Linked DNA regions of Homo sapiens: all the other regions are reported to be linked to region 1. Evidence: microRNA targets listed by miRTarBase, many of them from high-throughput screens and not tested one by one. Region 1 holds a microRNA gene; each other region holds the end of a gene's coding sequence. Distances are from middle to middle.
Evidence for each region. The annotated mature microRNA hsa-miR-2467-3p reads AGCAGAGGCAGAGAGGCUCAGG and lies in region 1 at 3,895-3,916, shown strand. An mRNA with a match to its seed (bases 2 to 7 or 8) in the 3' UTR can be bound and repressed. Matches are read on the target gene's strand: a 7mer-m8 pairs with bases 2 to 8, a 7mer-A1 pairs with bases 2 to 7 and ends in A, and an 8mer does both.

Region 2: the mRNA of PGAM4 is a reported target of hsa-miR-2467-3p. Seed matches in the 3' UTR shown: 7mer-m8 at 580-586 and 7mer-m8 at 915-921.
Region 3: the mRNA of NKAP is a reported target of hsa-miR-2467-3p. Seed matches in the 3' UTR shown: 7mer-m8 at 491-497.
Region 4: the mRNA of E2F1 is a reported target of hsa-miR-2467-3p. Seed matches in the 3' UTR shown: 7mer-A1 at 2,422-2,428.
Region 5: miRTarBase lists GEMIN6 as a target of hsa-miR-2467-3p. Seed matches in the 3' UTR shown: 7mer-m8 at 1,581-1,587 and 7mer-m8 at 1,262-1,268.
Region 6: miRTarBase lists ZBTB46 as a target of hsa-miR-2467-3p. Seed matches in the 3' UTR shown: 7mer-m8 at 1,455-1,461, 8mer at 2,066-2,073 and 7mer-m8 at 4,485-4,491.

The regions. Positions count from the first base shown.
Region 1 is chr2:239,350,504-239,355,647 of GRCh38, reverse strand. MIR2467 (microRNA 2467) reads left to right here and starts at 3,844; the gene lies at 3,844-3,924. It overlaps HDAC4 (histone deacetylase 4), which reads left to right. Exons shown (of 27, transcript NM_001378414.1): 2 at 2,730-2,970. The coding sequence starts at 2,949. RefSeq lists a silencer at 2,988-3,181.
Region 2 is chrX:77,964,488-77,969,399 of GRCh38, reverse strand. PGAM4 (phosphoglycerate mutase family member 4) reads left to right here. Exons shown (of 1, transcript NM_001029891.3): 1 at 1-1,451. The coding sequence ends at 526. The region is part of intron 1 of ATP7A (ATPase copper transporting alpha); the gene reads right to left. It also overlaps the pseudogene C4orf46P2. Among named protein-coding and RNA genes, the nearest start is that of PGAM4, 2.7 kb to the left of the region's middle.
Region 3 is chrX:119,922,651-119,927,129 of GRCh38, forward strand. NKAP (NFKB activating protein) reads right to left here. Exons shown (of 9, transcript NM_024528.4): 9 at 1-2,744. The coding sequence ends at 2,570. Among named protein-coding and RNA genes, the nearest start is that of NKAP, 19 kb to the right of the region's middle.
Region 4 is chr20:33,674,261-33,679,404 of GRCh38, forward strand. It overlaps E2F1 (E2F transcription factor 1), which reads right to left. Exons shown (of 7, transcript NM_005225.3): 4 at 3,941-4,093; 5 at 3,166-3,280; 6 at 2,845-3,070; 7 at 1,217-2,719. The coding sequence ends at 2,472. It overlaps NECAB3 (N-terminal EF-hand calcium binding protein 3), which reads right to left and starts at 168. Exons shown (of 12, transcript NM_031232.4): 1 at 1-168. The coding sequence starts at 92. RefSeq lists enhancers at 1-24, 695-1,195 and a silencer at 1-508.
Region 5 is chr2:38,781,537-38,784,536 of GRCh38, reverse strand. GEMIN6 (gem nuclear organelle associated protein 6) reads right to left here. Exons shown (of 3, transcript NM_024775.10): 3 at 1-3,000. The coding sequence ends at 2,645. Among named protein-coding and RNA genes, the nearest start is that of GEMIN6, 4.8 kb to the right of the region's middle.
Region 6 is chr20:63,743,131-63,748,274 of GRCh38, reverse strand. ZBTB46 (zinc finger and BTB domain containing 46) reads left to right here. Exons shown (of 5, transcript NM_001369741.1): 5 at 974-4,605. The coding sequence ends at 1,345. ZBTB46-AS2 (ZBTB46 antisense RNA 2) reads right to left here and starts at 4,450. Exons shown (of 3, transcript NR_186425.1): 1 at 3,547-4,450; 2 at 2,600-2,747; 3 at 2,324-2,452. SLC2A4RG (SLC2A4 regulator) reads right to left here. Exons shown (of 8, transcript NM_020062.4): 8 at 4,225-5,144.

The DNA of each region.
Region 1 (5,144 bases):
ATACCCTGAAGTGCAGAAGAATATGCCTCTGAAAATGAAATTAAATCAGGAAAAAATATTTTCAAAAGGCTTTGGCTAGAAGAATACCTGGCTCAACAAAGAGAAGCAGAAGGTGATGTATGAGGAGGGACTAGGCCGAGTGAGAAGATGATGAGATGAGTTTAAAGGGAAGTGGTTGAGAACAAAGAGTTCATGGCTTAGTTAAAATCTGTATTTGAAGCCATAAGGAATAAAATGGATATTGTGGAAAATAGCAGCAGTGAAGTGAAGAACATACTTGAGAGGCTGCCTGGGAATGCAGAATAAACAACAGATGTGTCACCGGTGAAAGAGGCCAGATCTGATGGGGAGACTTCAGCCAAATAGCATAGGAACTCTGAAGAAGCCAGAACAAGTTTAACAAAAATAATAATCAGTGACATAATTGAAGAACATTTTCCTGAGCAGAAAGAAGACCTATATTTGTTGAAAGAGTCATGTTTTGAACAAAATAAAAGACTCTTACTTATGTATCTTCTGACAACGTTTTTGAATTTTAAGATTCAAGAAAAAAATGCCAGTAGATTCCAGGCAGAAGAAAATGGTAACAACCACAACATCAAGACTCGGCCCCCAAAGTTTTACCTGGAAAGAAGCTGTAATTGAGCTGGACTTAAACTTCCCTACAATGTTGAGGGGGGAATGACATCCAAAAATTTTGAGGGGGGCATATTTGTGATCTAAGATTTTTATACCCAGCTGAGATGTGTTTTTTTGTGTGAAGGATACTGTCATCTGAGATTTGTGAGGGTTTGAAAAATATGCCATCTACATTCCCTTCAAGAAAATGTCTCTTTCTGACCAAGAGATGAATAAACATTCTGACCCTGAAGACAAATAAGTCATTGTCATTCCTAAGGAGATAACCAGATACAGAACAACAGTCATGAAGATATTAATCAGAGTTGTAGATACAATGAACATAAAGTTGGAAAGCATCTAGATAGCCAGCCTTGGGGGCGGGGGTGATTCTTTACATGATGAACTGGTTAGAGTTCTTTGGTTATAAGCAATTGGCAAAAAAAAAAAAAAAAAAAAAAAAAAAATTTCTAGACTAATTAAATCAAGAAAAGGAATTGGTCACACTTTTAAAGAAAGATGAACACAGAAGCCTCTGAAAGCACTTGAGCTGGGATCAGCCAGGGACTCTCAGTGGTAGGAGTGCTGAGACTTGTCTCTTTTGGGTTCATCTAGTGACTGATCTATTGAAGAGGCAGGCCTTGGAAAGAGAACTTGATGAGCTCAGCTGGTGCCACATGCCACTCTTTGGCCCGACACTTCCCTGGGAGCAGCAGGCTCATCCGAAGCTCCTGAAGTGGGGCGGGGCAGCTGTCTATCCACACATGGAATAGGAAACAGCCCTTCAAAACGAAGCTTACCAGGTATTGTTAATGCCATTGGAAAATGCCTGGCTGTAATATCAGCACAGAGAACGTGATAGACAGCTGTATCACTAGAGGTTCGTATGGGCAAAAGGCAAAGAAAAACAACGGCAAGGAAGCATGTCAGAATGTTACCAAGGGCTTGTCTGTGTGTGATGGCATCATGGATGACTTTTTAAATACTTAACCTGTGATGCGCATGTATTGCTTTTATAAGCAGAAAATGAAAACCTGAGAAAATGGTCATTATGAAGACAGAAACATGAGGGAACTATTTTAGGTTATCATGTTACGTGAGGAATGCGGACTTTAGAATTAAATTCTGTGATTACACAGACATTGTGACTACGAATGTCTATGGATCCAGGCTGATGCAAGCGTGCAGTAATGACATTTTGTGGTGGGAATGTGCTGAAAGTGATTTTTCTTTTAAAACATTTTATTTCATATTTATTTCATAAGCTAATATGACAGAATAAATTTATATTAGTTGGAAGATACTCTGCTTCCTTTCAAAAGCCTAATGTTGGAGAAACTTCTGGAAGGGGTAAGGAAGGTGTCTCTAGATCAGATATTTTGAACCAGGGGATGATATTATCCCCCAGAGGACCTTTGGCACTCCCTGGAGACATTCTTGGTTGTCATGACCTGGAAGATGCTGCTGGCATCTGGTGTGTGGAGGCCCAGGATCCTGCTAAATATCTTATAATGTGTATGGCAGCCCTACACCCCAACACCTAAATACGCAAACCAAAATCCCAGTGGTACTGAGGCTGAGAAACCCTGCTCTCTGGAGACATTTTTACATGTCTGTGATTTACTAACAAAAATCCCACTGCTCGTATTTGTAGAAATGATTCCGTCGAACTGTTCTATCAGTCCTTGGTCAGAACAAGGATAAAGAAGGAAGTTGGTGGGGCGTGGTGGCTCAAGCCTGTAATCCCAGCACTTTGGGAGGCTGAGGTGGGTGGATCACTTGAGGTCAGGAGTTTGAGACCAGCCTGGGCCAACATGGCAAAACCCCGTTTCTACTAAAAATACAAAAATTAGCTGTGCCTGGTGGCATGCACCTGTGTTCCCAGCTACTCGGGAGGCTGAGGCAGGAGAATTGCTCGAACCCAGGGTTGCAGGGGTGGTGGAGGTTGCAGTGAGCCCAGATCGTGCCACCACACTCCAGCCTGGGCGATAGAGCAAGATTCTGTCTCCAAAAAAAAAGAGGAAGTCATCATTTCCCTAGTTGGATGTTGTTTTCCAGATCGGAACTTCCATGTTGTAACTCCAGTCTCTTTTCTCCTTCTGACCTTGCAGGTTCATCTGCAGAAGCCAGCGGACGCCTCTGTTCAACTTGTGGGTTACCTGGCTCATGAGACCTTGCCGGCGAGGCTCGGCGCTTGAACGTCTGTGACCCAGCCCTCACCGTCCCGGTACTTGTATGTGTTGGTGGGAGTTTGGAGCTCGTTGGAGCTATCGTTTCCGTGGAAATTTTGAGCCATTTCGAATCACTTAAAGGAGTGGACATTGCTAGCAATGAGCTCCCAAAGCCATCCAGGTAAGGCCGGGTCATTTCTTCTCTGGGCACACAGCGGGGCTTTCTTTGCCCAAAGTAGAAGTTCTTGTGACTGCAGCTTGCTTTCTGGATTTGAGACTTTTGTTTTTCTTGATAGTGGTCACTGTTGGTTTTTGACAGCACAAAGTGCAAAATGGATGGTTTATTCTTCCTCTTGGTGAAAGAAGAATGATAAAACCTGGGAGGATGTGGAGTCAAGTCTGCGACCCCGGTTTGCAGGCTGACTTGAGAGGCACACAGGTTTCCTCGATGCTTTTTGACAAGGGTGATGTTGAAAGGTCAGGTTGTGATGTGGAGAGCTGGTTTCTTGCCCAGTGTCTTTGTTGTTTCATGAGGGGTTGTGTGAGGGGTGGGAGTGCTCCTCCAACTGGGCGTCTGGGCTGTCTGGGAAGAAGCTCATGTTCCCACTGAGGTCGTGGCCACAGTTGCTCCTGGTGTTTGAGGGCCTCTGTGAGGGGCTGCACTAAGCATTTTACAAGCATTTAGTACAGCCCCAGATCATCTCAGGCCTGGAGGGAAGAAGTAATTTGCCTGAGGTCACAGAGCTGGTAGGTGGGGGACCCACATGATTGGGAAGCAAGCTTGTCCTGCTCTGAGCTTCAGAAGCATGTCATGGGCCCATCCATTTACGACTTCACACTTTCTGTCCTTGGAAAGTCACCGAGAGCGTGCACCATAATGAAACCTCGAGGCCTGCCGCCGACCTGCCTGAGTGTGGGGCTCCTGCAGAGCCAGTCCTGTGCTGCCCAGCTTCCTGCCACTTCCAGCGCACCGTGGCCTTCAAGGGCACTTAGCCATCGACTTCTGTCTTGCGTCCACATGAGAGAGAAGACGGTGGCCACTGGACAGACGCTTGGACAGGCACCTGAGGCTCTGTTAGCCTTGGCTCTGGGTCCTGCTCCTTAGAGCAGAGGCAGAGAGGCTCAGGGTCTGTCTGGGTCACTCTCTTTGAGATTGCCGGAACGCTTACACACATCTTTCCCTGGGTGGAATCGTCTTTGTCTGAAAATTCCAGAGGGCAAGATTCCAGGTTTTTTTAGATATGAAAGTTTTATTGAGTTAAATTGTTTATGTATTGACTGATGTAAAGAAATGGTTTATGATCATTCCAAGACAAAATTAAGCGCTATGGCTCAAAGTGTCTAAATAGACATTGAATGGAGCTGGCTCTCTCCCTCCTACACTGGGCTGCTGTTGGGTGAGAGTGTATCTTTTTTCTGTGTCTAAACATAGTGTGATGTGTGTGAGCATTTTCATAGAGTATAATTCTATAGGCAGGGCCCTGTGTTTTACATTCTGTCCATTTTAATGTGTTATAAGCATCTTTTGGTATCAGTATGTGTGCAAATATAACTTGCTCTTTTGATACCTTGCGAATGGATATTTATGTGGTTGTAGCAGTGTTTATACCAATTCCAAATTGGCATCAAACAATTATTATACATATATTTTGTAAACTTCTAAGTATCACTACTAGACAAATTCCAGGAAGTGGAAGCTGGGTCAGTGAGCCCGTGCACTTAAAACATCATTAGGTTGACTGTCAAATTGCTCCAGAAGCCTCGTTCCAACTGATCTTCCTAATTCCAGTGTAAGAGGATGCATATTTTTCATTTGTGCTGTACCAGCACTGGGTAGGTTCAGTCTCTCTCATTTTTGTCAGTGTGCTATGGGAAAATTATTGTTTGAGTACACTTGATTATTTTAATGGGGGTGCATATTTTTGTATGACTTGGTGTACACATAATCATAATTTGTACATGCTCTGCAGGCATTTGAAGAGAAAGTATGCTCTTAGGATTTTGTTTCAGTCTAAAGACGTCTGTATGTATGTATCAATATTGTATTTAAAGTTCTCGGCCGGGCGCAGAGGCCCACAGCTGTAATCCCAGCACTTCGGAAGGTCAGGGTGGGCAGATCACAAGGTCAAGAGATTGAGACCATTCTGACCAACATAGTGAAACCCCATCTCTACTAAAAATACAAAAATTAGCTGGGCGTGGTGGCGTGTGCCTGTAGTCCCAGCTACCCAGGAGGCTCAGGCAGGATAATCGCTTGAACCTGGGAGGCAGAGGTTGCAGTGAGCTGAGATTGCGCCACTGTACTTCAGCCTGGCGACAGAGCAAGACTCCGTCTCAAAAAAAAAAGTTCTCTCA
Region 2 (4,912 bases), not on the chromosome of region 1:
AGTGGTGAGGACTTGGCGCCTCAATGAGCGGCACTATGGGGGTCTAACCGGTCTCAATAAAGCAGAAACTGCTGCAAAGCATGGTGAGGCCCAGGTGAAGATCTGGAGGCGCTCCTATGATGTCCCACCACCTCCGATGGAGCCCGACCATCCTTTCTACAGCAACATCAGTAAGGATCGCAGGTATGCAGACCTCACAGAAGATCAGCTACCCTCCTATGAGAGTCCGAAGGATACTATTGCCAGAGCTCTGCCCTTCTGGAATGAAGAAATAGTTCCCCAGATCAAGGAGGGGAAACGTGTACTGATTGCAGCCCATGGCAACAGCCTCCAGGGCATTGCCAAGCATGTGGAGGGTCTCTCTGAAGAGGCTATCATGGAGCTGAACCTGCCGACTGGTATTCCCATCGTCTATGAATTGGACAAGAACTTGAAGCCTATCAAGCCCATGCAGTTTCTGGGGGATGAAGAGACGGTGTGCAAAGCCATAGAAGCTGTGGCTGCCCAGGGCAAGGCCAAGAAGTGAAGGCCAGCGGGGAGGATACTGTCCCCAGGAGCACCCTCCCTGCTGGTCTTGTCCCTCTGCCCCTCCCACCTGCACATGTCACACTGACCACATCTGTAGACATCTTGAGTTGTAGCTGCAGATGGGGACCAGTGGCTCCCATTTTCATTTTAGCCATTTTGTCGCCTGCACCCACTCCCTTCATACAATCTAGTCAGAATAGCAGTTCTAGAGCACAGGTTCTCAGTCTAAGCTGTGGAAAAGCTCCCCTTATCCAACAGAGTTTAAAAGTAGTGACTTGGGTTTTTGTGAGTGCTTTGTTTACTAAGGACTTTGGGGAGGAACATGCTAAGCCACGACCAATGAGGAGAAGCAACAGAGCCTGTCTGTCCCCATGAGCAGAGTCTGTCCTCTGCTCTTCTGCAGTCAGGCCACTGCCTGGGGGCTCTAGTCATTCCAGTGGAAGATGAATGTAATCTGCATGGTGATGTGACAACTGTTTCCTCCTTGACCCCAGAGGATCTGGCTCTAGGTTGGGATCAATCCTGAATTTCGTTATGTGTTATATTTACTTTTATTAAAAAAGTATAGTATATATTAATAATACAAAACAATAACCCTTCTGGGGTTTCTTGTGGCGGTTGAAATAGTCCCACATGTGGTCATCAGAAAATAAGCCATTCCTCATACCAATATAGGATCAGCTCCTTGACCTCTGAGGGGCAGGAGTGCTTCCTGGTGTGTGTATTAGAATCCCTTCCTGCCTTGTTTCATGGCAGTGAAATGCCTCTTGGTCCTGTCCAAGTGTGTCTTTCACTGATTTCTGAATCATGTTCTAGTTGCTTGACCCTGCCACATGGGCCCAGTGTTCATCTGAGCATAACTGTACTAAATCCTTTTACCAGATCAGTATAATAAAGGAGTGATGTGCAATTAAAAAAAAAAAGTATTACAACATCATTTTAGTTTTGGTGAGCTCAGAGAAACTTAAGCAGAAAATGCTGAACCATGCCCGCTGCTACTAACAAAGCAAGATGATTAATGGACTCTTGTAACTTCTCCAACTAATTTCTGTGGAGCTTTGAACAATTAGACCACCCAGTCTATGGTATTATGTTATGGAAGCCTGAACTAAGACATATGCATTCTTTTTTAAATTGGGATATAATTCACATGCTATAAAATTCAGCCTTTTAACCTACAGAATGGGAGAAAACATTTTGCAATCTACCCATCTGACAAAGGTCTAATATCCAGAATCTACAAGGAACTTAAACAATTTACAAGAAAAAAACAACCCCATCAAAAAGTGGGCAAAGGATATGAATAGACATTTCTCAAAAGAAGACATTTATGCGGCCAACAAACATATGAAAAAAAGCTCAACATCACAGATCATCAGAGAAATGCAAATCAAAACCACAATGAGATACCATCTCACACCAGTCAGAATAGCAATTATTAAAAACTCAGGAAACAATAGATGCTGGTGAGGCTGTGGGGAAATAGGAACGCTTTTACACTGTTGGTGGGAATGTGAATTAGTTCAACTATTGTGGAAGACAGTATGGCGATTCCTCGAGGATCTAGAACCAGAAATACCATTTGACCCAGCAACCCCATTACTGGGTACATACCCAGAGGAATATAAATCATTCTACTATAAAGACACATGCACACGTATGTTTACTGCAGCACTATTTACAATAGCAAAGACTTGGAACCAACCCAAATGCCCATCAATGATAGACTGGAGAAAGAAAATGTGGTACATATACACCATGGAATACTATGCAGCCATACAAAGGAATGAGATCATGTCCTTTGCAGGGATATGAATGAAGCTGGAAACCATCATCCTCAGCAGACTAACACAGGAACAGAGAACCAAATGCTGCATGTTCTTGTTCATAAATGGGAGTTGAACAATGAGAACACATGGACACAGGGAGGGGAACATCACACACCGGAGCCTGCTGGGGGGTGAGGGGTGAGGGGAGGAAACTTAAAGGATGGGTCAATAGATGCAGCAAACCACCATAGCACACATGTACCTACGTAACAAACCTGCACGTTCTGCACATCTATCCTGGTTTTTTTTAGAAGAAATGAAAAAAATTCAGCCTTTTAAGGTATCCAGTTCAGTACTTTTTAGTACATTCACAAGGATGTGCAACCATAATGACTATGTAGTTGCAAAACATTTTCATTACTCCAAAAAGAAATCCCATGTCCATTAGCAACACTCCCCATTTCCTCTCTACTCACAGCCCCTGGCAAACACTAATTTTATTTCCTATCTCTACGGATTTGCCTATACGGCCATTTCATATAAATTGATTCATTCAATATGTGTCCTTGTGTGTCTGGATTCTTTCACTTAGCATAATGTTTTCAAGGTACATTGATGTGTAAAATGTATCGGTATTCCATTCTTTTCACTTTCTTGATGGTGTCCATTGAATCACAAAAGCTTTTAATTTGTGAAGTCCAATTTATCTTTTTTCTTTTGTGTTTTTTGTGTCATATCTAAGAAACCATTGCCACATTCAAACTTACGAATATTTACTGCTATGTTTTCTTCTAAGAGTTTTTGTAGTTTTGGCTCTTATATTTAGGTCTTTAATCCATTTTGAGTTAATTGTTGTACATGGTGTATGGTAAGGATCTGACATACATTGTTTTACATGTGGATGTCCTGTTTTCCCAACACCAGTTTTAAAACATTCTTGAGATGTAGTTCACGTATTATATAATTCGCACATTTAAAGTGTAGAATTCAATAGTTGTTAGCATATTCACAGACATGTGCAACCATCACCACAGGCAATTTCAGAACATTTTCATCACCTAAAAACAACAACAACAACAACAAAACATACCCCTTACCTATCAGTCATCACCTCCTAAGCCTTCTGTCCTGGGCAACCACTAATCTACTTTGCTTGTATAGATTTTCCTCTTCTGGACATTTCAGATGAATGAAATCATGTAATATGTGGTCTTTTGTGACTGACTTCTTTCATGTAGCATGTTTTCAGTGTTCATCCATGTTACAGCACATATCAGTACATCATTCCCTTTTATGGCTGAATAATATTCCACTGCATAGATACACCATAATTTATCTATTTGTCAGTTGATGAACATTTGGGTTGTTTCCATCTTTTGGCTATTATGAATAATGCTGCTATAAACATTCATGTACAAACTTTTGTGTTTTCATTTCTCTTTGGTAATACCTAAGAGTAGACTTGCTGGGTCATATAATAACTCTATGTTTAATTGTTTGAGGATCTGCCAGACTGTTTTCCAAAGTGACTGTACCATTTATACTCCCATGAGCAGTATATAAGGGCCCCAATTGTTCCACCTCCGATACCTATTATCTTTTTTATTCTACCCATCCTAGCAGGTGTGAAGTGGTATCTCATTGTGGTTTTGATTCACATTTCTCTGATTACTGATGATGTCAAGCATCTTTTCATGTGCTTATTGGGTATTTGTATATCTTCGAAGAAATGTCTATTCAAGCACTCTACCCAATTTTTAATAAGGTTATTTTGTTGTTGTTGTTGAGTTGTAAGAGTTCTTTATATTCTTGGATATTAATCCCTTATCAGATATATGACTTTCAAATACTTTCTCCTATCCAGTTGGTTGTCTTTCACTCTTTTTTTTTGAAATAAAATTTGCTTTTAATAAAAATTTATTTTGTACATTTTTAAAATTGCAATTTTCAGGACATGTAAGAAAAATATTTTTCCTCATACTGAAATAAGCATATCTTTGGTATAGAAATCACACCCTGTGTGTGATCTTTTAACTTAAAAAAAAAAAAGTCCAGTGCTTTTACATTGTTGGCGGGAGTGTAAATTAGTTCAACCATTGTGGAAGACAGTGTGATGATTCCTCAAGGATCTAGAACTAGAAATACCATTTGACCCAGTAATCCCATTACAGGATATATACCCGAAGGATTATAAATCATTCTACTATAAAGACACATGCACATGTATGTTTATTGAGGCACTATTCACAATAGCAAAGACTTGGAACCAACCTAAATGTCCATCAATAACAGACTGGATAAAGAAAATGTGGCACATATACACCATGGAATACTCCGCAGCCATAAAAAAGGATGAGTTCATGTCCTTTGCAGGGACATGGATGAAGCTGGAAACAATAATTCTCAGCAAACTATCACATGAACAGAAAACCAAACACTGCATGTTCTCACTCGTAAGTGGGATTTGAACAATGAGAACACACAGACATAAGGAGGGAAGCATCACACACTGGGGCCTGTCGGGGGGTGGGGATTAGGCGAGGGATAACATTAGGAGAAATACCTAATGTAGGTGATGGGTTGATGGGTGCAGCAAACCACCATGGCACGTGTAT
Region 3 (4,479 bases), not on the chromosome of region 1:
CAGGAGGTGGAGGTTGCAGTGAGCCGAGATTGCACCACTGAACTCTAGCCTGGGTGACAGAGGGAGACCCTGTCTCAAAAATAATAATAAAAAAACTTTTGCTCTATACTTTGAAATATGACTGCCTTATTTAAACACTTTTGAAAAACAACCACTTAAAAATATAAGGCAAGCGGGCATTTTACAATAGTATAATCAGAATGTCCTTATCACTCAGGTAATTTAAATTTATCATAGGCATGTAATAATAATGCAGATCAAATAACCTTAACAAAAACGGCCAGGCACGGTTGCTCACACCTGTAATCCCAGCATTTCAGGAGGCTGAGGCGGGCAGATCACTTGAGGTCAGGAGTTCGAGACCAGCCTGGCCAAGATGGCGAAACCCCATCTCTATTGAAAATACAAAAATTAGCCAGTTGTGGTGGTGAGTGCCTGTAATCCCAGCTACTTGGGAGGCTGAGGTGGGAGGATCACTTGAACCCAGGAGGCAGAGGTTACAGTGAGCCGAGATCACACCACTGGGCTCCAGCCTGAGTGACAGAGTGAGACTCTATCTCAAAAAACAAAAAACAGAAAACCAACCTTAATGAAAACAGCCAAAACTTCCTGGGTTCCCTCCCCCATTCACTCTTCTGACCTAATTAAAATTGAACGAAATAAACAAAGGAACAAGACCACGATATCATAGTCCCACAATTTTCCATTTCTCCCCAACTTAAAAACAAACAGAAAGGTTTAAGTGTTTAAAATGAAATCTACTTAGTATATGAAAGACAGTTAAAAATATTTAATATCATTTTAGTTTCTCTTATGAAACAATTAAGCTAAAATACTGACTCATTATATTTTTCCTTATCAAAACTCTTGACCATAGTTGACTCCTATTCTTTTGGATGTTATCCTATCCTCAAGCTCATATCAGCTCAGATTGAAATAAAGTATTTACATGGGGATAAGAGTAGACTTCTTAAGACTTTATATTTCAAATAACTATTTTTAAGTAACTTATTAAGAATTTAGGCTGGACGCAGTGGCTCATGCCTGTAATCCCAGCACTTTGGGAGGCCAAGGCGGGCGGATCACCTGGGGTTGGGAGTTCGAGACCAGCCTGACCAACATGGAGAAACCCCATCTCTACTAAAAATACAAAATTAGCCAGGCATGGTGGCACATGCCTGTAATCCCAGCTACTCAGGAGGCTGAGGCAGGAGAACTGCTTGAACTTAGGAGGTGGAGGTTGTGGTGAGCCGAGATCACCCCATTGTACTCCAGCCTGGGCAACAAGAGCGAGATTCCATCTCAAAAAAAACAATTTAAAATATCTAATGTTCACATTTTCAATTCAACAAATCTGTGGGTTAGTTTGCTTTTTGGTTTGTTTGTTGGTTTTAGAGTGGAGGTAGGGACTTAAATCAAAACCCATTATTTCCAGGGTAGATCATATATTATAGTACACAAGTCAGTTTTCAAATTCCAGATTTGCTTTTCGCAGCAATGCCTTCATTTTGTTAACAAAAGTGGCCTCCTATATGTTCCTATCAAGTCCATTTATAACACATTCAACACAGAGGAGTGATAATTTCCCAAAAGTTCAGCTGGGGTAGAGGTCGGGGTGGGGCAGGCATCACATAGAGCTAATAGTAGCACTGTCTCATGGTGTGAGATTGAAGTTTCTCATCTCACTAACACTTTTTGTTCAAGCCACCTCCTCCAATACAGTAGCATTTTATTCATAATTTGGATTTTTTTTTTTTGAGACAGAGTTTCACTCTTCTTGCCCAGGCTGGAGTGCAATGTCACAATCTCGGCTCACTGCAACCTCCGCCTCCTGGATTCAAGCAATTCTCCTGCCTCAGCCTCCCGAGTAGTTGGGATTACAGGCGCCCACCACCACGCCCGGCTAATTTTTGTATTTTTTGGTAGAGACAGGGTTTCACCATGTTGGCCAGGCTGGTCTCGACTCCTGACCTCAGGTGATCCACCCGCCTTGGCCTCCCAAAGTGCTGGGATTACAGGCGTGAGCCACCGTGCCTGGCCTTTTATTTTTTTCTGAGACACAGTCTTGCTTTGTCGCCCAGGCTGGAGTGCAGTGGCACAATCTCGGCTCACTGCAACCTCCACCTCCTAGGTTCAAGCAATTCTCCTGCCTCTTCCTCTCGAGTAGCTGGGACTACAGGTGTGCGCCACCACTCCTGGCTGATTTTGTATTTTCAGTAGGGACAGGGTTTCACCATGTTGGCCAGGCTGGTCTCGAACTCCTGGCCTCAAGTGATCCACCCGCCTCAGCCTCCCAAAGTGCTGGGATTACAGGCGTGAGCAACCGTGCCCAGCCCATAATTTGGATTTTTAAACCAGAAAGTTACTATGGTCAATCCAAAATAACCCAAAGAACTTGCTAAAGTTATATCAATAAGCAGCTTTTTATTGAAGGACTGAAAGAATTAAATAGAAGGCACAGTAGCACTGTAAAGCTTTCTCAGAACATAATAATCTTTTTCTATGTATGTGTGGAACCCAGACTTTCTTTTTTGTTGTTAAAAATGTCTTCTGGACAATCAGAAAATCTTTATTTGTCATCCTTCCCTTTGGTCTTTCTGTAAACCATTTCTCGAAAACTGGCCAGAATCTTGTTCTCTCTCTTTCGTCTCTCTTCTTGGTTAAAGGATGCAAGGGCTCTCTTCTCATCAGCACTGTAGATCTGGTTCTCTTTTCGCAGTCGCACAGCCTCCATTCGGCGATGCCTGGAGAGAATTTTATTTTTGGCTTAATTTCTCAGTAATTATTTTCATAGTACATCATCATTAATCCTTTCTTACCCAGAGTGGTCTATTTAACAGCTGACAAAAATTGAAATGGGTTAAATTTCCAAAAGATCATTTATTAATATTTTAGCTGCCTGACACGTCCTTTTTTTTTGTTTTGTTTTGAGATGGAGTCTTGCTCTGTTGCCTAGGTTGGAATGCAGTGGCACGATCTCGGCTCACTGCAACTTCCACCTCCCTGGCTCAAGCAATTCCCCCATCTCAGCCTCCTGAGTAGCTGAGATAACAGGTCTGGCTAATTTTTGCATTTTTAGTAGAGATGGGGTTTCACCATGTTGGCTAGGCTGATCTCGAACTCCTGACCTCAAGTAATCCGCCTGTCTCAGCCTCCCAAAGTGCTGAGATTACAGGCGTGAGCCACCGTGCCCGGCCCTGATATGTCTTTGATTCATTTCCACTATTCAAATAATGATCTCTGATTTCCTGTCAACATAGTAAATGTTATCCTTTTTTCTTTTTTTTTTTTTTTTAATTTTTTTTTTTTTTTTTTTTGAGACGGAGTCTCGCTCTGTCGCCCAGGCCGGACTGCGGACTGCAGTGGCGCAATCTCGGCTCACTGCAAGCTCCGCTTCCCGGGTTCACGCCATTCTCCTGCCTCAGCCTCCCCAGTAGCTGGGACTACAGGCGCCCGCCACCGCGCCCGGCTAATTTTTTGTATTTTTAGTAGAGACGGGGTTTCACCTTGTTAGCCAGGATGGTCTCGATCTCCTGACCTCATGATCCACCCACCTCGGCCTCCCAAAGTGCTGGGATTACAGGCGTGAGCCACCGCGCCTGGCCTATCCTTTTTTCTTTTCTCCTTTTTGTGAGTCTTAAAGTCTGGCTCTGTCACCAAGGCTGGAGTGCAGTGGCACAATCTTGGCTCACTGCGACCTCTGCCTCCTGGGCTCAAGTGATTCCCCTGCCTCAGCCTCCCGAGTAGCCGGGAGTACAGGTGTGTGCCACCACGCCCGACTAATTTTTGTATTTTTAGTAGAGATGGGGTTTCGCCATGTTGGCCATGCTGGTTTCGAACTCCTGACCTCAGGTGATCCACCTGCCTTGGCCTCCCAAAGTGCTGGGATTACAGGTGTGAGCCACCATGCCTGGCCGCTATCATTAATTTCAAATACTAAGGGTATACGTCTAATTTGTTTCCAGTAAAACAATCAGAAATGGGCAAATTATTAAACTTCCTAGGTGACATATCCATTTGCCTTTGTGGAATTGGAAGTAGGATAGATAAAACATTTAACTAGTCATTAATCAGATGGAACTTCCTTCAAGGTTCTACTTTACCATAAAACCAAAAGAACCAAGTCTAGGCTGGGCATGGTGGCTCACGCCTGTAATCTCAGCACTTTTGGAGGCTGAGGCAGGCAGGTCACCTGAGGTCAGGAGTTTAAGACCAGCCTGGCCAACGTGGTGAAACCTCGTCTCTGCTAAAAATACAAAAATTAGCTGGGTGTGGTGGTGGGCACCCGTAATCCCAGCTACTTGGGAGGCTGAGGCAGGAGAATCATTTGAACCCAGGAGGTGGAGGTTGCAGTGAGCTGAGATTGCGCCACTGTACTCCAGCCTGGGAGACAAGAGTGAAACTAGGTCTCAAAAAAAAAAAAAAAAAAAAAAGAACCAAGTCTAAATCTGTAATTGAACAGCAGTTTTTATCAGTGGA
Region 4 (5,144 bases), not on the chromosome of region 1:
GGCGCGAGCTGGGGGTGCCGCGGGGTCTGGGGCTGGGGCTGGGGCGCGGGCGGCCGGAGCAGGCACACGGTGAGCAGCCCCGCGCACGCCATGGCGCCGCCACCCGCTCGGGCTCGGCTGCGGTTGCTGCCGACCCTGGACGCCGCGGCGGACTCGGTGTGGCTAGAGGCCGCCCCTTGGCGCCGGCGCCGACGCGCGGGCTCAGGCCCCGCCCCCGCCCCGCCCCCGCGGACGCCGGGTTCCCTCGCCTCAAGGTCCAACTCCAGCGCCGCGGGCCTCCGCGCTTCCGCGGCCACGGCGGAGGGGGAGGCGCCCGAGGGCTCCGGTCCCGCGACGGCCTGTCGGGAGCAGAACCTAGGGGCTGCGGGCCTACCCAGAGGGACAGGATGACCAAGCCAGTGCCGAGGTCAGGGTGACACAAGTGGGTAAAACCCACCAGGACTTCACCTTTTGGGGCGTCTGTATCCTCATCTACAAAAATGGTACTGGCAGACACCCTATGCAATTGTTGGGACTCATTCAATGTCAAGTGCTTACAACGGGGGCTGGCGCAGAGGAAGCCCACAGGTCCGTGCGGCCGAATCCCAGGCATCCCGACGCCCGCCCTCTCTGGCACTAAGCGCAGCCCTTTCCCCTCCCCTCCGTGACTCTGGCCCTCCCTTCAACCCGTTCTCCACACAGCAGCCGGGGGGAGCTTTTAAGATGCGAAAGAGGAGGTGTCACTTCGGTCTCCAGTGACTCCTTGGCCCCTGAATAAAGCTTAAGACTGAACGCCCCACTCCAGGAGCACCACTCTGACCCTCACCTCAGGACCGCAGCCACACTGCTTTCTCTCCGGTCCTCTATCCCGCTCCCTCCTGCCCAAGGCCTTTGCCCATCGTGTCCTCTGCTTGGTGTTTTCTTCCTCTGGTTAACTCCTACTTATTTTACAGCGCTCAGCTTAAGCACCACCCATTCCAGAACGCCTTTCCCGATTTTCTCATTTATGCAGATCTCCTCTTTCAGACCCTGAGAGCACCATGAAAGGAGGTAACACCCGTGTCCCCAGAACTGTTAAATACCTGACACAGAACCAGCCCACTGTATTTGTTACATGTTTACTAATGTCCAGAAACGTCTGGAAGGAAGACAGCAAACTGAGCAGAGTGGCCTCTGGGGCTGGGGAAAGGAGAGGCCACTCATTACTCTGCACTTCGGGCAGCACTGAATAGCATTCTTGGCTTTCTACAACAAAAACCTTTACTGGATCTGCTTTTGAGTTAGGACCAAAACAGCGAGGAAGCTGACCTTTCTTCGAGTTATGAGGCTCAAATCAAATCGGGCACGGACAGGGAGAAGGGAAGTGGAGAATGGGCATTTCCCCAGCAACCTTGGCCTCTCCCGCCCCGAAATGTTCCCAACAGAGTCCCAAAACCCGGCCCAAACGTCATCAAAATATTTATTAAAACCAAAGCAGGAGGGAACAGAGCTGTTAGGAAGCAAATCAAAGTGCAGATTGGAGGGTGGGGCAGAGCAGTGGGGAGGCAGGCGCTTCAGACACTGCAGGAGGGACCACAGGGTCTGGGCTGGGGGAGGCCTTCACCACCCCTCCTGCCCACATCAGTGAAGGTCCCCCACTCACCTCTCCCATCTCATATCCATCCTGGGGGGCAGCTGGGGCCCTGAACTGGCCCCCTGGAGAGGGCCCACCCCACCATCTGACCACCCATGGCTGTCAGTCAGTCTGTCTCCCTCCCTCACTTTCCCAATAAATAAATCACCCAGGCCTCAGTTCCTTCAGTATGGGGCAGAAGAACAGCTCAGGGACCCCTGCCCTTGCTCAAGGGTAGAGGGAGTTGGGGTATCAACCCCACACCCCTCCTCCCCTTTGCTGATTCCCCAGGCTCACCAAAGAGGCCTCGATAAATAAATAACGCTCCATTAAAGCTTCAATCAGAAAAAACCTTTAAGACAGAAGTGCTCTCACCGTCCTACACGCCCAGCCAGCCAAAGCCTCCCCACCTGGCCTGGTCAGAGCACCAGATTCTGGGAGCAGGCACTGCCCTGGGCCTTGTGGGACCCCCAGAGCAAAAGGGCCGAAAGTGCAGTTAGAGCCCCCCCACGCGCACACATGGACTCATGCACACACATGTGGACACACTGGGGCGTGTCTGCAGTGCACACACAGAGGTGTATGTTCACCTTCATTCCCCGGTACATGCACACACACATGCTCACACACATTCACCCCCGGTACACACGTGTGGGTGTAGGCTGCATGCACATACACACCACACAGACTCCTTCCCTTCCTGGCTTGCTCAGCCTCCTAGCGGTAGCCAGACCCCAGAGCTAGAAGCTTCTGGAGACAGAGGAGAGGGGTATAAATTAAATGTTTCCAAACAGGCTGGGAGGACGGCCAGGGACAGGGGGCTCCAGGGCTGCAGAGACAAGGTGAGCATCTCTGGAAACCCTGGTCCCTCCAAGCCCTGTCAGAAATCCAGGGGGGTGAGGTCCCCAAAGTCACAGTCGAAGAGGTCTCTGATGCCCTCGCCCTCCTCGAGGCCGAAGTGGTAGTCGAGGGCCTCGTGGGGTGGGGAAAGGCTGATGAACTCCTCAGGGAGGAGGCCGGAGAAGTCCTCCCGCACATGCTCCAGGAGCGAGTCGGCCGCCACCAGCGGGGACAGGCGGTCCTCGTCCACGGGAGCCCGCAGGCTGCCCATCCGGGACAACAGCGGTTCTGGGGAGACGGGGAGCATCACAGGCCGGGGATGCCCCAGCAGGGAGGAAGGCAGGGGCTGTCGTGCCTGCCCACCCCCCAGAAGAGGGGCCCTGCCCCACCCCACCCACCTACCCATCACCCACCTTGCTCCAGGCTGAGTAGAGACTGGCTGGGATCTGTGGTGAGGGATGAGGGGGGAGATGATGGTGGTGGTGACACTATGGTGGCAGAGTCAGTGGCCCTGTTCTCCTCCTCAGAAGTGACCTCCTGGGATGGGGTCTTCCCAGGGCTGATCCCACCTACGGTCTCCTCAGGGCACAGGAAAACATCGATCGGGCCTTGTTTGCTCTTAAGGGAGATCTGAAAGTTCTGGGTGGAAGCAGCAGGCAGGGTAAACTGAGGCCCAGGTGACCACCAGCCCAGCCCAGCCCAGCCCAGTTGGGCCCGGAGTTCCCAGATCTCACCTCCGAAGAGTCCACGGCTTGGAGCTGGGTCTCAGGAGGGGCTTTGATCACCATAACCATCTGCTCTGCAGGGTCTGCAATGCTACGAAGGTCCTGACACGTCACGTAGGCCAGGGTTGGCAGAGTCAAGGACCACATGACCTTTGACTTCTAGGGGGTCACTCACTCCAACAGCTCACAAGGCAGGGCTCACACCTGCCTAGTCACTCCTGTCCTCCCAACCTCCTACCCACTCAAAACCTACCTCACGCCTGAGTTTCAAGTTCCACATCTGTATAATGAAATCACTCTACCCATTGAATCCCAAGGTAATAATGGCTACCGGGAACGATTCCATGTAAAATGTTCAACACAACTCCAGGCCTGGTGCTGGGAATTTATTTTTTAGAGGCAGGGTCTCGCTATGTCACCCAGGCTGGAGTGATGTGGCTCAACCAGAGCTCACTGCAGCCTCAAACTCCTGGGCTCAAGTGATCCTCCCACCTCAGCCTCTTGAAGCACTAGGATTACAGGCATGAACCACCGCACCTAGCCACTTTTCTTTTTTAATCTGTACAATTTCAGAATTGGATATTATTATTCCCCTTTTATAGATAAAACTGAGGCCAAGAGGTTAAGCAATTTATCCAGTGTCACAACAGTGAGAAAATGCTGAGCCAGGACTTGCAACCAAAATCAGAGCTCTCTCTTAAATCCAAGCCTCTCTAGTCCCACTTGGGTGGAGCCCCTGCCTGCTAAGCCTGCCTTCCACACCCTACGGCCAATCCAAGGATATCGCTGGCTGTCAGTGTCCTCGGAGAGCAGGCGCAGCTGCGTAGTACAGATATTCATCAGGTGGTCCAGCTGCTGCTCGCTCTCCTGCAGCTGTCGGAGGTCCTGGGTCAACCCCTCAAGCCGTCCGCCGACGCCCACTGTGGTGTGGCTGCCCCTGTGGGGAGGCACCAGGGAGGGTAGGGTTAACAGCGATTGGCCCCTCTGGCCAGGAGCCCTGGGCCTCAGGACAGAGTCTGCTGTTGCCTCTGTTCTGTGAGGCCTAGGCAAGCCCTTGCTTCTGTCTGGGTCTGGCTCCTCAGCTGGGCTCCAAATCAGAGTGTCATGGGCTTGAAGTCTGGCCCGAATATAAACACCTACATGTCCCTCAACCAGGGCGGGATAAACAAATGATGGGACTGACATGCCACGAAATATTACACATGCACACACACATGCATTTCCAAGACATGCTGTCAAATGAAAAAAAAAAAAAGGCTGGGCTTGGTGGCTTATACCTATAATCCCAGCACTTTGGGGGGCTGAGGCCAGAGGATTGCTTGAGCCTCAGGAGTTTGAGACCAGCCTGGGCAACACAGTGAGACTCTGCCTCTACACAAAATCAAAGACATTAGCCAGACATGGTGGCATGTACTTGTAGTCCTAGCTACAGGTACGGAGCTTGAGCCCAGGAGGTTGAGGCTGCAGTGAGCTGTATTTGTGCCTCCATACTCCAGCCTGGGCGACAGAGCAACACCCTGTCTCAAACCACCCCCCTCCACCCAAAAAACCACAAAAGATGCAGAATGGAACGATCTACCAAAAAATGAAACGGCAGGTGTATCAAAGAAAGGGTAGTAGCATGATGACTGGCGCGAAGGCGAGAGGGGGAAAATAAAACAAGAATAAAATATCTATGCCAGACAGATCTCACCGAGGGCATGAGAAGCCAGGATAGTGGTGACCTGGCGGTGTGAGGGGTTGGCAATGACTGGAAAGGGGCACAAGAGAACCTTCTAGGGTGTTGAAAATGCTCTTATCTTGATCTGAATGGTGGCAACCCAGATGAATAAATATATAAAGCTGCGCGGGGCGCAGTGGCTCATGCCTGTAATCCCAGCACTTTGGGAGGCTGAGGCAGGCAGATCACCTGAGATCAGGAGTTCGAGACCAGACTGGCCAACATGGTGAAACCCCATTTCTACTACAAATACAAAAAGTAGCTGGGC
Region 5 (3,000 bases), 200 Mb from region 1:
TTTTTTGAGACAGAGTCTCGTTCTGCTGCCCAAGCTGGAATGCGTACAATCTCGGCTCACTGCAACCTCCACCTCCCAGATTCAAGCGAGTGCCTCAGCCTCCTGAGTAGCTGAGATTATAGGCGCTCACCACCACACCCAGCTATTTTTTTTTTTTTTAGTAGAGACAGGGTTTCACCATGTTGCCCAGGTTGGTCACAAATCCTGGCCTCAAGTGATCGGCCCGCCTAGGCCTCCCAAAGTGCTGGGATTACAGGCGTGAGCCACCGCGCCCAGCTGGCTTCTTCCTTTTCAAAGGCCTCCCTCATCTTGTCAGTCATTTCCTTGCTGACTTCAGTCTGTTCATATTCCCCTTCTATTTGCTTTCTGAAGACATCCAGGGTTTGAACAGGAGAGTCTTAGCCACTAGGAGAAAGGTGATGTGTGCTAAATTTTGCTTTCAGGATCATGGAACTTTGAAGCCGTGAGGGAGGAACTTTCTGTTCCCCTGAAGTTTCTGAACTGCTTCTGCAAGTGTGGTCTGGGAACGGTAACATCATTATCTGGGAGTCTGTTGGAAATGCAAATTCCTGGGTCCCAACTAGAACTACTGAATCAGAATCTGTTGGGAGGAGGGTCCAGCAATCTGTTTTGAAAAGCCCTGCAGCTGATTCTGATGCTTGCCAACATGCAGGAAGCACTGGACTATACCATCTTGTTATTAGACAACTATGCAGGAAAATAGCTGTGTTATCAGACTGTATTCAAAGGCCCTGAAACCTAAATATTTGCTGATTCTGATGCTTGCTAAAGTGCAAGAAGCACTGGGCTATACCATCTTGTTATTAGACAACTATGCAGGAAAATAGCTATGTTATCAGGGCCTGTATTCAAAGGCCCTGAAGCTTAAATATTTTAAAATATTTCTTACAGCTGGACATGGCAGCTCACACCTATATTCCCAGCACTTTGGGAGGCCAAGGTGGAAGGATCACTTGAACCCAGGAGTTGAAGACAAGCCTGGGCAACATATCAAGACCCTCTTTTAAAAAAAAAAAAAAAAAAAAAAAGCCAGGCACGGAGGCTCTCATGCCTATAATCCCAGCACTTTGGGAGGCCACGGCAGGCAGATCATGAGGTCAGGAGTTCAAGACCAGCCTGGTCAACATGGTGAAACCCTGTCTCTACTAAAAATACAAACATTAGCTGGGCATGGTGCTATGTGCCTGGTAATCCCAGCTACTGAGGGGGCTGAGGCAGGAGAATGGCTTGAACTCAGGAGGCAGAGGTTGCAGTGAGCCGAGATTGTGCCACTGCACTCCAGCCTGAGTGACAGAGCAAGACTCTGTCTCAAAAACAAACAAACAAACAAAAAACCCACAAAAAACAGCCGGGCACGGTGGCTCACACCTGTAATCCCAGAACTTTGGGAGGCCGAGGCGGGCGGATCACCTGAGGTCGGGAGTTTGAGACCAGCCTGACCAACATGGAAAAACCCCGTCTCTACTAAAAAAATACAAAATTAGTGGGGCGTGATGGTGCATGCCTGTAATACCAGCTACTCAGGAGGCTGAGGCAGGAGAATTGCTTGAACCTGGGAGGCAGAGGTTGTGGTAAGCCGAGATTGCACTATTACACTCCAGCCTGGGGAACAAGAGTGAAACTCCATCTCAAAAACCAAAACAAAAACTCCACAAAAAAACCAGAAAACTGTAATTCAATAGGTAATGCTGTGTTCCAATAATTTTTTTTTTTTTTTTTGAGACGGAGTCTCGCTCTGTCACCCAGGCTAGAGTGCAGTGGCGCGATCTCGGCTCACTGCAAGCTCTGCCTCCCGGGTTCATGCCATTCTCCTGCCTCAGCCTCCTGAGTAGCTGGGACTACAGGCACCTGCCACCACGCCCGGCTAATTTTTTTTGTATTTTTAGTAGAGAAGGGGTTTCACCGTGTTAGCCAGGATGGTCTCGATCTCCTGACCTCATGATCCACCTGCCTCGGCCTCCCAAAGTGCTGGGATTACAGGCGTGAGCCACCGCGCCCCACCAAGACACATCTTTTAAAAACAGACACATACAGTTAGTGAAGAGACTTAACAAGACCATGATCTTACCATAATATTTTATATTGAATCTAACATGTTACATTTTTTTCCAAATGCTTTTCTTGCCTAACAAAAATGGGGGTGTAACCCCATCACAAGAAAAGACCCATACAGGTGAAACCCCATCTCTACTAAAATACAAAAAATTAGCTGGGAGTGGTGGCGTGCACCTGTAGTCCCAGCTACTCGAGAGGCTGAGGCAGGGGAATCGGTTGAACCTGGGAGGCGGAGGTTGCACTGAGCTGAGATTGCGCCACTGCACTCAAACCTGGCAACAGAGCGAGACTCCATCTCAAAAAAAAAAGAAAAAAAGAAAAAAGAAGACCCATACAATTCTGATGTCCCTGTGCTAATTTTATGCATGGGATGCTATACTTGCCCTAGTTCATTAATTTCCCAAGGAAATTAGCACTTATAACCCACTCCTCTGATTTTACCAAAACAACAAAGAATTATACACACACACACATACACACACACAGTCATGTACATTTACATTTAAAACATTTTATGAGGGATAAAATATAGTCTTTTTCTATCAGTATGTTCACACTTCCTGGCCTCTCATTGGGAAGCTGTAAGATGTCCTTCAATAAGATCCTGAACACGCGACAGAATAATCTCATTAGAGCTGCTGCAATTTTCTGGACCATATGGTGGGTCTATAGTCAGGACCCCAGCCACACAGAGAGTCCTTGGAGCGTCTCCCTGTTCAGTGATGGGGATGTGGTTCTTCTCAAGCCATTTCTTTAGGCTGTTCTTTCTCTCTTCCAGATCCTCTGGGCTGTATGCTTTGCAGTCTCCAGACGTGAACAAATGCATCAGCTTCTCCCTCACTCTATGGTCCCCTTCATTCATAGTTTCAACAGTCTGCACAGCATGTCCCATAATTCCGGTCACAGACATGCTGCCATCTTCAA
Region 6 (5,144 bases), not on the chromosome of region 1:
AGGGTGCTGCCCCATCTCCCTGCCGGGCCCAGCACAGGGCACAGCACGACTGCCCTCCCTGGCAGCCACACCTCCTCCTCTGACCATAAGTGCTCATCTCTCTTCTTGCATGTCTCAGTCGACCTTGAAACAGCCTGAGAGTGGGGGAGTTGCCTCCTTTACACGTTCCTGGAGTCAGGGTCGGGCTGAGGGGTCAGGGACTGAGGGGGTCAGGGGCTGAGGGGGTGTCCACGCAGCCAGGCTGAGGTGTGGGCCCACCTGCCCGGCTGGCAGCCCCAACCCCGGCCCGTCCCTGTACGGCTGGGTACAGGAAGAGCTCTGTGAGCTCCAGTCCAATGCGGGGCCCTCAGCCTGTCCTGCAGGGAGGTTTGGAGGAAGCCAGGCTTTTAGGCAGAGGCCGGTGGTGTGACCCCCGTGAGAAGTGTGTCAACCCAGGGGGCCTCTGGTGGGGGTGCTTGGACACACAGTGTAGACGCTGAGACTGGCCCACCTAGGGGCTGGGTTTGCGGGGGAGGGGCACTGCCGCCCTCGTGCCAGCATCCCCTTGGGACAGGGCTGCCTTGGTGCCACCTGCAGTTCTGCTGTGTGGCTCTGATAGGAGCTGGGGCTCAAGGTCTGAGCACTCCTGTCTGCGCACCTCCCCCACCAGGAGTCTCTGCCTGTGCAGACACTCGGAGGGCCCGGGAGGCTGTGCCCCCCCAACCCCAACCGGGCCCTGCTCACCCCCGCACCCCCCCCACCCACCAGGCCCTGCTCACCCCCTGGCCCCCCTCCCAACCTCCACCGGGCCCTGCTCACCCCCTGCCCCGCCCCCCCCACCTCCACCAGGCCCTGCTCACCCCCTGCCCCCTCTTCCAACCTCCACCTGGCCCTGCTCACCACCTGCCCCCCCCACCTCCACCAGGCCCTGCTCACCCCCTGCCCCGCCCCCCAACCCACCAGGCCCTGCTCACCCCCTGCCCTGCCTCTGCAGGTCCACAGCAAGGACAAGAAGTATGTGTGCAAGGTGTGCAGCCGCGTCTTCATGTCCGCCGCCAGCGTGGGCATCAGGCATGGCTCCAGGCGCCACGGTGTGTGCACCGACTGTGCTGGCCGCGGCATGGCCGGGCCCCTGGACCATGGCGGCGGAGGCGGCGAGGGCTCTCCAGAGGCGCTGTTCCCAGGCGACGGGCCCTATCTGGAGGACCCTGAGGACCCACGAGGGGAGGCGGAGGAGCTGGGCGAGGACGACGAGGGCCTGGCCCCTGAGGATGCGCTGTTGGCGGACGACAAGGATGAGGAAGACTCGCCGCGGCCGCGCAGCCCCCCAGGAGGCCCTGACAAGGACTTCGCCTGGCTCTCCTAGGCCCGCCCGCCGGCAGGGTCGGTGGCTGCCTCGCTCCGTCCACCCGTGTGTGTGTCCGGTGGGTCTCCACTGCGGGGCCAGGGCCACGCTCACCCCTCTCGCGGCCCCTCCTCTGCTTCCCCCTGAACCCACCCCCCACGGAAACCAGCCCTGCGGGCTAAGCAGGTGCGACCCCAGCAAGAGGGGTGCTCTGGGACCAGACATGAAGTGAGTTGGGGGAGGGCACAGGGTGGGTTTGAGTGAAGGGAGAGCACGGTCCTAAGTCCCCAGCAGGTGGTGCGGGTGTGTGAGTGGCCCCTGTGATGGCCAGCCTGGCTTGGACACGTGATGGGCCTGTGGCCGGGTCCAGTGGGCACTGGGCGGGGTGGTGTGTTCGGCCCAGAGGCCCCTGGCCTGAGCAGGTGCAGAGTTTTACAGACACCCGGTCAGCCCGGCTGGAGCCCGCCCTCCCCTCCCCTAGCAGCCAGGTCACTGCCTGTGGCTGCAGCCGTGGCCCGTGGTGCAGCCGTGGCCCATGGCAGCCTGTAGAATCCAGGTGCACAGAGAGCCCTGCCACCGTCTTACCTCTGGGCTTTGGTGCTTAACACACAACACAGCTGCAGACCCTGCTGGAGGCCGAGGGCTCCAGGTGCTATCTTAGGTGGACACAGCCCTGGGGGCTCCTTCCAGGAGGGGACCCTCAGCCCTGTGCCCCCCACCACTTCAGGCCACACCAGGTTCCCTCTGCAAGGGCCTCGGCTCAGTCGTGTGCACTTCCTCGGAGAGCCTTGGGCTGCCACGTCCACCCCGGGCTCTGCCCGTCCTGTTCTGCCCATGGCCCAGCCCGGCCGCTCCTGCTGACCCCTCCTGGACGGGCTGGAGCTGGGCTCCTGCCTTTGCTGCTAACACTGGAGGCGGTGTTCCTAACTGCAGTGTGCTGCTTACACCTCCCCGCGTGGGTAACCAAATTTTTAAGTAGTCAGAGACATATCGAGGTAGTTACATAAAATTATTTTGTTTGGCATTATTTTTCTCACTCGAAGAAACTATATAGGGTTGTTTTTCCTTTAGCTTGTGCTCAAGTCCTCTTGCTGTGTTTTCAGAAGCACTCACATGTTCTTTCTTTTCCTGAGTGAAAAGCAAAGGTCCCACGGTGTGTGCTGTGGTGCACCGCCTGGCTTTGGGGGTCCCGGAGGCAGGCTGCCTAGACTCACAGCCTCGGGACCGTTGCCACGGCCTGTCTTCTCGTTCAGGCCTGCCTCTGACAGCACTCACCATGAGGACATTCCATCCTTCACCCCCTCCTCTGGCACAGGCCACCACTGCGGTGCTGTGCCTTCAGATGGGAGGTGGGCGCGGTGGCCTCCTCCTTCCCTCCAGGACCTGCCCGTGTGAAGACCCCCCGGAGTGCTGAGCTTCAGGGCTGCGTGGAAAGAGTTTTTACTCTCTTTTTCTAGCCTGTATACCAGGCTTTTCCCCACATTGTCAGGTAGAGCACCAGCTTCCCTGACCGCTGCTGCTCGGGGAGGGCTGGGGCTGGCCGGGGGTCCTGTGGAGGAGTACATGGAGGACTCCAGGTACAGCGCAGGAGTCACGGCTTTTGTTTTTTGACATTGGCCCCCGGTTCTACCAATGACAGGGTGCCCTGGCTGGAGCTGTCATCACACACACCCCTCAGCTCGGAGGCTGTGGGCTCCTCAAAGCTGGAGAAAGAGGCCAAGATTTTTCTGCACACGGAGTGTGGGGATAGGAGCCGGGCCAAGCGCTGGCCCCTCAGCGGTGAGCCCTGCCCACTCTTACCGAGCAAGGTGGGTGGCTCTGGCACGAGTCCCCCAGGGGGAGAGCATGGCTACCAGGGAGCTGCAGCGGAGCCCTCCAGCCCTCACCCCAGGCCAGCCCCACCCCGGCCTCTTTGAGAATTCTCAGAACTTTGTACCTTTCCCCTGATTTTTAAACCCTTTTTCTAAACAGACTGACTTTCTTACAAAATGCATTTGGAAACCAGACCTTTGCTACCCACCAATGTCTCTGGGTTTTGTACCAGTCCCTGCTCTCAGGCCACCCTGCCCAGGACCCAGGCCCGCCTCCCCCTCCACACTCAGGATGTCCTGCTCCATCTGGCCGGCTCACTCCGTGTGGCCTGCCTTTGCTGACCGTTTTGGGGTTCCCCGCCGGAGCTACAGGGGCATTTTCTTCCCTAAAACCAACAGTGTCCCACTGACCTCCCCAAGTGTTTGCTGCGTGGCAGATTTCCTGTTCTTGTTCGCAGTTTGCCGACTGAAGAGTGTGGGATTTCCGAGGCCCAGGTGAGCACGTCCATCTCAGGAGGCGTGGAGGGAAAAGACATGTCATGAAGGGTTTTTTTTATGTGACTGATTTTTTTTTAAATCGATGTTCAAACTAATAAATATTTTTTTATGAAGAGGAAAAATGTGTAGATTACATTTCACATTTTGTATTTTTGTTTGTGTCTGTTTGTATTTTGGTGTTTACAACACCAAAGTGGGAAATACAGTCCATTGGGGATGGTGTTATTTGGGGGCGGGGAGGGGGCAGGGACACCACGATTTTTCTGTCAAGCTCTGGATCCTGACCAGGTTGTACACTGGGGCTCTCTGAGCTTTGGGACACAGGACACTGCCAGGGCTACGTAGGGAACTGACTCAGAAGACGCAGCTTACTGCTTCCAACTTTGCACATCTTCCTCTTTAAAAAACTGAGAAAATGCAAAAACTGGAACTTTTTGCAATATTATAAAAGAAGTAATCTTATTTTAGCTCATTCTGTGACATGTGCGACTCTTAAGAAAGCCATACTTAATGGTGGTGGTTTTTTTTAGATCTTATATTGTGTTTTGTATGCAGCCCTTTTAGAACTACTTGTAGTGAGGGTGCTGTGTGTGCTTTTCTTAAATATTTATTTTTTTCAACATGCTTTCAACCTGTCAACAAAAACAAAACACACAAAAAAAGGGCAGTGTTTGAAGATTGTTGATTTTTTTCTGGGGATAATCTATATTATATTGACTTCCTATTACTTATTATAAACCTGTGTTTGTATTGGAGATGTGTCTACTATTGGGGGAAGAGGTTCTCGTAATCGCTCGGTGGGAAATCATGGCTCTGCCGTCCTGCCTCTCTGTGGCCGTGGGTTCACGTGGCCTCTGCGGTGAGTCTCCAAGTTTCTGCCTAGGCGCCTGTGCGTTTCCTTTCTGTGACGGGATTAGCTTAGACATCCTTGCAAAGCGATCACTTTCAATAAATTGGGAAATTGCTGCTCCAGCAGATGCCTCCTGCGTCTCAGATGATCCTTCCTCCGGCCTCGCCTGGGGTGGCGGCGGCCGACGGGTGACCCTCGGCCCTCTGTGGGCAGCTGCCAGACTCCACCCACTTGCCCACCACAGGGTCCCAGCCCCACGGCCTTCCTCCCGAGAGGCAGACAAAGCTTCTGGAAAAACCTCAAATCTTTAATTTCTCTCTTCGCCTGGTGCAGCCCAGACGTGAGACACCTGAGCTTCAAAAACAAACATGGTAAAAACAGCCCCAGGGCCCGAGAGCCGTTGAGTTAAGTGCGAGTGGGGGAGTCCCCTCTCCAACACCCCTCAAAGTGCATCGGGACTGGCCCCCCAAAGCTGGGCCCATAACACCCTTGATAAATCTACGGGCCGACAGGCGGGAGGGTGGCTGCCCCCAGGGCCCTTGGGGCTAAGGGGACAGCGGTGTGGTTTGGCTTTAGTGCAAAAAGCTGGTTTCTTTAGAGGCACTTTGAGTGGTGGGACCCCTCCCCGACCTGGCGGGGGGGAGGGTTCAGGGTCAGCCCC